2 linked regions of the Homo sapiens genome follow. The protein of the gene in region 2 interacts with the protein of the main gene of each other region in a pairwise test. Each region holds a gene or a part of one and is shown on either strand. Other genes may lie near its edges.

What was found. Proteins that work in one complex are often made in the same cells at the same time.
Region 1: the proteins of TXK (region 2) and GRB10 interact in binary tests that used the Homo sapiens proteins (3 or more experiments, as listed by UniProt).

The regions. Positions count from the first base shown.
Region 1 is NC_000007.14:50,615,187-50,618,939, forward strand, and holds part of GRB10 (growth factor receptor-bound protein 10), read right to left. Parts: intron 2,954-3,753; coding exon 2,885-2,953; intron 1,162-2,884; coding exon 1,024-1,161; intron 1-1,023.
Region 2 is NC_000004.12:48,113,547-48,117,299, forward strand, and holds part of TXK (tyrosine-protein kinase TXK), read right to left. Parts: intron 857-3,753; coding exon 802-856; intron 795-801; exon of another isoform or gene 196-794; coding exon of another isoform or gene 116-195; intron 1-115. UniProt on the Homo sapiens protein: Non-receptor tyrosine kinase that plays a redundant role with ITK in regulation of the adaptive immune response. Regulates the development, function and differentiation of conventional T-cells and nonconventional NKT-cells.

The sequences.
Region 1 (3,753 bases), on a different chromosome or scaffold from region 2:
AACCCAAAGGTCAGAGTTAAGAGCACAGGGCCTGTCTGCCTTTGGTTTGTTGTGAGTCCAGAGTCCAACCGTACTTTGGGTTTTCCCACTGGTAGCTTGCTTGTCCCACCCTTCTCCTCCTCAACTCTCCAGCCCAGCTCTGTTTCCTGCTCTACGAAATACCCTCCCAACTTCAGCACACACGAGGACAGTGAGCGGGCCACACAGCAGAGCTGGGAGGTCAGGAAGCTACCATGCCCTGTGTCAGTTCAAAGCCCCTCTCTGCAGACGCCCCTTCTCTCTGGCCCAGGTGTCGGCAGCTGCTGACTTCCCAGAGCCGGCCCCAACACCTTCCCAGAGCCGGTTCCCAGATGCTCAACACCTGTGCTGGGGTCCCGCCAGCTCCCTTTCACCTCTGCTGGCCAGAGCAAAAGAGACCACAGCCCTCAGATGGTAAGTGCTCAGCCAGGTATTGGGTGGACAAGGCTCCTGCCACAGGGTATATGTGGACAGCACAAGAAGAGAGCAGACAAGAGTGTACATGGGAGCAAAGGAGCCTCCGGCCTAAGCTCTCTTTTGAGGGCCTGCAGCTGTTTTCCATCTCCCACCTTCTTCTCACTGGGGATACATGCAAGCCTGCAGTTTATTTCATGAAATATCTATGATACATAAAGTTACACTGGCATTAGGGTGGCAATAGTCTATCAAACATCTTTACAGCTAGCTTAAATCCCAACTTATGAGAACTAGGCCAGTCTCTGAAGTGATGGGGCAGCCAGGGGTGTCTGCTCCCAACCCGCAGTGGGGGTGGGGCTAGGCAGGTGGGGTTCTTAGGCCTGTATTATTTATTACCTAGTTTCTGAGCGAGACCAGGAAACCTGTGACTCCAAGTTCAGCTGCTGCACAATTAGCTTATTAAGAAGTTGTCCTGAGCTTGGAGGAGTCTAAGGTGCATTTAAAAATGAAGCCCAGGTTCACTCTGAGGACCTGGGGGGAGTGACTGTGGCAGAATTAGGGCTGGTGGTGGTAGCTTTTAAAGCTCACCTTTGAAGTTCCCTTGGTGGAGCAATAAAGGCCAGATCTCCGCAAACACACATACAGCTTTTTCCATGATTTCTTTCCCAGCTCTTTCACATGCAAAAACCCTTGAATTTCAGGACAACTACTGGAGTTCAGAAAATTCTGTTGAAGAACAAATTTTTAAAATCACATAATGCTAATCTAAAATAATTAAAGCAGACATGTTATCAGCATAGCTGACATTTTCTGAATTATTAAAAGACTCCTTTTTGGATCAAAATGAGAGTGTTCTCCTTTCCAAAGTCTTAAAATCCCATCTCAATTCGTGTTGCATAGAACATAATTCGTATTTAAACATATGCAAGCAAATGGACCTTTCCAACACTGGTGATAACACGAGTCATGAATTTCCCTATAAGATAGTGCACTGAAGGATCCAGTCTGATATCAGACTGAGGGCAAGAGCAAGTGCCATGACCAAGTGATTGGGACTCTGGAGACTGACAGTGAGTATGTAGTGGCCACTTTTACCCAGGCACCCCTCCAGTCAAGGGTCACATAAAAGGTGTCATGTGTCCGCAAGTGATGCACCCAGGTGCAGGACATCCTGGTGATGTCCCCCTGTTCCAGCTAACTCTTCCCACAGGCAGCCTTAAGAATAAAGGCTTTATCAAAACAAAACAAAACAAGAAACTACGCTTTTCATCAAAGGGAAGACAGGCCAAGGGCCAGGTCATGGAGCGAAGTTGGGGAGGTGATGCTGGCAGGTCCTGCTACTAGACTGGGAGGGGACAAAGCTCTTTTCCCCCAGGTGGGAAAGGCACGTCGGACAGAGCCCTGGTGCACCTGGGTCAGTCCTTCTTGAGTCTCAAGAGATCACTGCACATCTTCACAAAGCGCATGGATCCTCTCAAAGTCAAGGCAATTAAAACAGAATCTGCTATTTCACTGTTCACTGTGTATAGGTGGTAACTTAGTGCTGACACCTCTCGCCAGAACAGACACATGCTATGGTCAGAAGGGCTTCTGAAGACACCACCAGAACAGAGCTCTGAAACTCTTATCTTTTAGATGCTGAAACAAATTTGGTGATAACAACGTAGAAAAAGGGCTTATGAGGAGAATTCTGTAGGAACTACATTTTAGTAGTTTCTCTTACATGTAATGTCACCTGGATCTTGTTGGTGGCCTTAGGAAATGGTTTATTCTCTCACTTTTAACATGTACACAGGCACATTTTTAGGGTGTAGCTGTAACATTCCCATTCCCCACTCCCAGCTTCCCCGGAGGAGTGTGTGTGAGAGCTGGGCACAGAGGCCCTGGTGGCTCCCTCCACTGGAAGAGGAGGTGGGGAGAGACCAGGTTTTCTTAGAACAGACTTTATGAATCAGGACAATTAAAGCAGGTTTCTTTATTTGTAATATATGGCAAGTTACTTTTAAAAGTCTGTTGTGGTAACCCGATCATCTTTTACTATAGACTCTGTGCTTCTGCAGAGATTTCCAAGCAGCTAGGCGGTGGCCTGACCTGGGACCCCTGCTCAGAAAGGAGCTGGGGAGGGAGCCCTGAGACTGGGGTTTCTCCATGCACCCCCTGGCCCACACTCAGCAGTGGCATCACTGGACTCTTCTAAGTCAGAGCAAGGGCATCGTGTAAGTGCCTGTTTGGCTTAGAAGGAACCCAGCTACACACAGATTTTCCAAGGAAACTTTTAATTTCTGGTTACTCTAAACCCTCCCCCCAACCACCCCTCCGGCTTAAGAGCCAAGGTTATAAATGGTGAAAGATGCGATCTCTTTAGGTTTTTTACAATGCTGCCATTCAGTTCCAAGAGGATTTCTATTCAGAAAGTCTATTTCAGCAGAGATCTATTGTGGCCCAGTACCTGCAAAAGCTGGGTTTGACTGCCATTTGACTGCTGGCACCAAGTAACCATCTGTTCTGGGAAGAAATTCTAAGAAAATGGGAAAAAACAAATACGTAAAAGGTTAGCTTCAAAGTGAGGGAAGGTATGTCATATAGATATGTCAATTTTAAAACTATTCCTACCAGTATAATTACATACACCTGTATTTAAAATGGCGGTCCTTTTTATTCTCCTATCACACAGAAGAAACACCTCCTTCAAAAGGTTGTATTTTGTTTCCTGAAATGCTGGGTACTAGTGTGGAATACCAACTATGTTTACTAAGGGATTCATGTCTCACAGCATGCTCCATGGCAAAGAGCGATGCCAGCGTCCCAGCCCAGTGGCACAAGTGCACAGCGTGAGATAAAGAATTCCTGAAACTAAAAGGTAAGCCCAGTCACGAGAAAAGCCTGTTCTGCTGCATTCCCCAAAAACAGTCTTCAAATTTCTTACTTTGGAATAAAAAAGCAGCTACATTATCAGAGTCAGAAATGGCCCTGGGTCTTCTCCCCAGTTGATGCAGCTCTGACCCATGACTCAGGATGACAGCGAGTGCCCCAGGAGCTAGGAGGTGCCCTCCCTATCCTGGCCTCTCACAGGACAAGTGCCTCTCCCAAAGAAAGAAAAGAGAGATCAAGGTGACCAGCTCAAGACACCAACCAATCGCACTGATTTCTCTAGTCATTCTTCCACGTATGATCACAAAATATATTTGCTATTTGCAGAGAATAATGAGTTTTTCTTCTGCTAAGTGTTTGATCAGTTCAACTGAGAACTTTCAAAATAACAGAAAACACCCAGCCTCTCCCAGCTCCTGTCTTAGAGACTAACCCCCTTTACACTGT
Region 2 (3,753 bases):
AAACATGTCACATTCCCAGTAGAGTCTGGTGCATCTTCAGGGCATAAAGTTATAATCATTGTAATGAAAACTTACTCCATATCTGGCTCAGTGTTTGTCATTTTATATGCATTACCTCATTTGATGGTGTCTTTTTGTTATAAATAGACATGGTATAGTGATTAGGAACAAGAGTTTGAATCCCAGCTCCACCATTTCATAGTGTGGCCTTGGGTAAGCAATGTAACCTCTCTAATCTTCAATTTCCTCATCTGTAAAATGGGGATCATAAAAAAAAAAAGTAGGTGGTTTTGAGAACTGTATGAGTTAATAAACATAAATCTTTTAGCATAGTATCTGATATACAGGAAGCTCCTGTTAAATGTTAGCTTTTTCTGTTAACATGCTGCCTTGGATTTAATTCTTACAGAGTCATTTACTGCCACCAAAGTATAAGATACACCGGTAGTTTTGGGGAGATAGATAACTAAGATAGGATTCTTGCCCTTAAAGGGAAAAAATACGTATTGGAGCACAGACCTATAAACAACATACATGAAATAAAAATTAAGTGGAGAACAATGCCGCACACGGTGGGAATGCAATGGAATGAACAATGAAATCTAAAGGATCAGGAAAGGATCCCAGATGACCTGACATTTGACCTAGACCTGTAAACAAATAGGCATTCCACAGGGAGAAAATGGGAGAAGGTTCCCAGGTAGAGAGAACAGCGGGTGCAAAGAGACATGGTGACTCCACAGGTAATAAAGAAACGGAATTAATTAATTTTCAAGAAATTGCCCTCGGAAGTAGACTTACCGCTTCTGCACTGAACAGCAACAGCAGCAACAGAAAACCGACTGGATGGTGTTATCTGAAAAGCAGATCATTTCTCAGCTGTTAGAAAGCCATGAGTACGTGATATTGAGGGAGTCTCTAAGGGAAGGGTGAGACGAATTATTATAAAGCGTATGAAAGTCTCGATCGTGCCTTCCTTCACTAGTGGAAGACAAATAACTGTCACTAAAGCAAAAAATAAGTTTCTGGCACCTTGGCCAGTGTGGTTTCCCTTCTCAGGCTCTTCTCCTCTGGCCTGGTTTTTGCATTTCCTCAGTCTGTGAGTGATAAATGACCAGTGTATTCTCTTTTACCTTTGTCAGGGCTAATGTTCGCTAACAAATATACAAGAGAATAGGATTCCAGAAGTGATGCTCTCCTAGGAAATCTGTTAGCAGGGATTTTGAATTAGATCTGTCATATTTTTTTAAATTGAAATGTTTAAAACATAGGCTCTTTTTAAAAATTCCATCAACATTTCAGTGGGATTTTTATTCTTTTACGTATTTATTGTAATTAAAAATTGTTCTAAACCTTAGCTGCATGTTAGAATTATCTGAGGAGCTTTAAAAAAAATATTCTGGTGTACAGGTCATACCCTGCATACCCCAGACCAAAAAAATTAGACTGTCTGGGGAGGAATCTAGGTATTGGTATTTCTTTCTTTCTTTTTTTTTTTAATTTTACTTTAAGTTCTGGGATACATGTGCAGAACAAGCAGGTTTGTTACATAGATATATATGTGCCATGGTAGTTTGCTGCACCTATCAAACCATCATCTAGATTTTAAGCCCCGCATGCATTAGGTATTTGTCCTAATGCTCTCCCTCCCCTTGCCCTCCACCCCACAACAGGCCCTGGTGTGTGATGTTCCCCTCTCTGTGTCCATATATTCTCATTGTTCAACTCCCACTTATGAGTGAGAATATGCAGTGTTGGGCTTTCTGTTCCTGTGTTAGTTTGCTGAGAATGATGGCTTCCAGCTTCATCCATGTCCCTGCAAAGGACATGAACTCATTCGTTTTTATGGCTGCATAGTATTCCATAAAACATAGGCTCTTACTATGGAATAAGCTTAAAGATAAACTGAATATTTGAAGAAAGAACTAGCTAGTAAGTCTAGGTTATGCCTAGACTTTCATTGTCAAGCTTCATCTTTATTGAAGTGAGATGATTTTCCTTTTTAAAGACCATAAATAAGCCAAGGGTGGTGGCTCATGCCGCTAATCCCAGCACCTTGGGAGGCCGAAGCAGGCAGATCGCTTGAGCCCAGGAGTTCGAGATCAGCCTGGGCAACATGGCAGAACCCCATGTCTACCCCAAAAAACTTTTTAAAAAAATTAGCCAGGCATGGTGGTGCATGCCTGTAGTCTTCAATACTCAGGAGGCTGAGGTGGGAGGATCCCTTGAGCCTGGGAGATGGAGGCTGCAGTGAGCTGAGATTGCACCACTGCACTCCAGCCCTGGTGACAGAGTGAGACTCTGTCAAAAAAAAAACATAAATAAATTTTGAATTTCAAAAGGATATTTTATTTTCATAGAACCTACATTTCCCCATCAGCTCATACTCATATTGACATCCGAAAATATTCTGGAGGCAGCAGAGTACCTTAGAGGTGAGCATTCACTTTGAGGGGAGACAGACCTGGGGTTTAGCCCTAGTCACCTGGCTGACTACATCTTGGATAAGTCCCTTTACTTCTCTAAGTCTTAGTTTTTCTAACTGTAAAACTGAGGTAAATAGTATGTACTCCCTTTGAGAAGCCCTATAAATGTCTAACTTTGTGACTTTGAGTAAACTAGTAAATGTTCTGTGCTTTAGTTTCCTCGTCTGTAAAATGGGAATAATAGGATGCCTAACATGTAAGCCAACGGTGAGGACTAATTGAGTCGATTCATGTAAAACTCCTAGACCAATACCAGGTATACAGTAAGAGGGTAATCAAGAAGGCTGATTATAATAGGATCGTGGTGAAGAATCAATCAGATAACATCTTTTAAAGTCCCTGGATCATAAAGGTAAGTATTATCAGTCAGGATCCCAACAAGAATCAGAAGGCACACTCAAACTGGGATATGTTGAGAAGGATTTATTTATAAAAGGAAGTATAGAGATGTAGGCAGAGTGTAGTAAAACTACAAGGATAGTGCAGGAATCCAGAGCTGAGCCATCACCACACCTAACCAAGTGAGGAGGGAAGGGAAGGTTACCAGAACCTAGAAGGAGAGGGTATCTGTGGCCCAGGCCACCTGGAAAAGAGCATGTATCATCCATCCAAGGACACAGACTGCCCAAGGAGACTTCACAGCAAGAAAATCAGGAGGATAAATATCCTTACTCCACTGTCCTCCCTCCCTCCTTGCTGGGCTCTCCATTGGCCTAACCCAGCAGGAAGCCAGATGGTTGTATGTAAATCACACAGCAGCAAACAGCAGGCTGGTGAAAGGCAGAGAGTGGACCGGCAGGGAGAGAGGCAGACAGGAAACATCCAGCACAGTCCACCCCTCAGCATCCATTTTTTGTTTCTTTTTTTTCAGACAGAGTCTCACTGCGTCGGCCAGGCTGGAGTGCAGTGGTGCTATCTTGGTTCACTGCAACCTCCTCTACCTCCCAGGTTCAAGTGATTCTCCTGCCTCAGCCTCCTGAGTAGCTGGGATTACAGGCATGTGCCACCACACCCAGCTAATTTTTTGTAGTTTTTAGTAGAGATGGGATTTCACCATGTTGGCCAGCCTAGTCTCGGACTCCTGACCTCAAGTCATCCGCCCAACCTGGCCTCCCAAAGTGCTGGGATTACAGTTATGAGTCACCGCGCTCGGCCCATCCTAAAGTGGAAATCATATATGCCCTCTTCCATTATCCATTCCATTTCCCCTTTGCCACTGCCAACACCTTGGCTGGAGGAGGTGCCCAAATATCCATTCCTGTAGGAT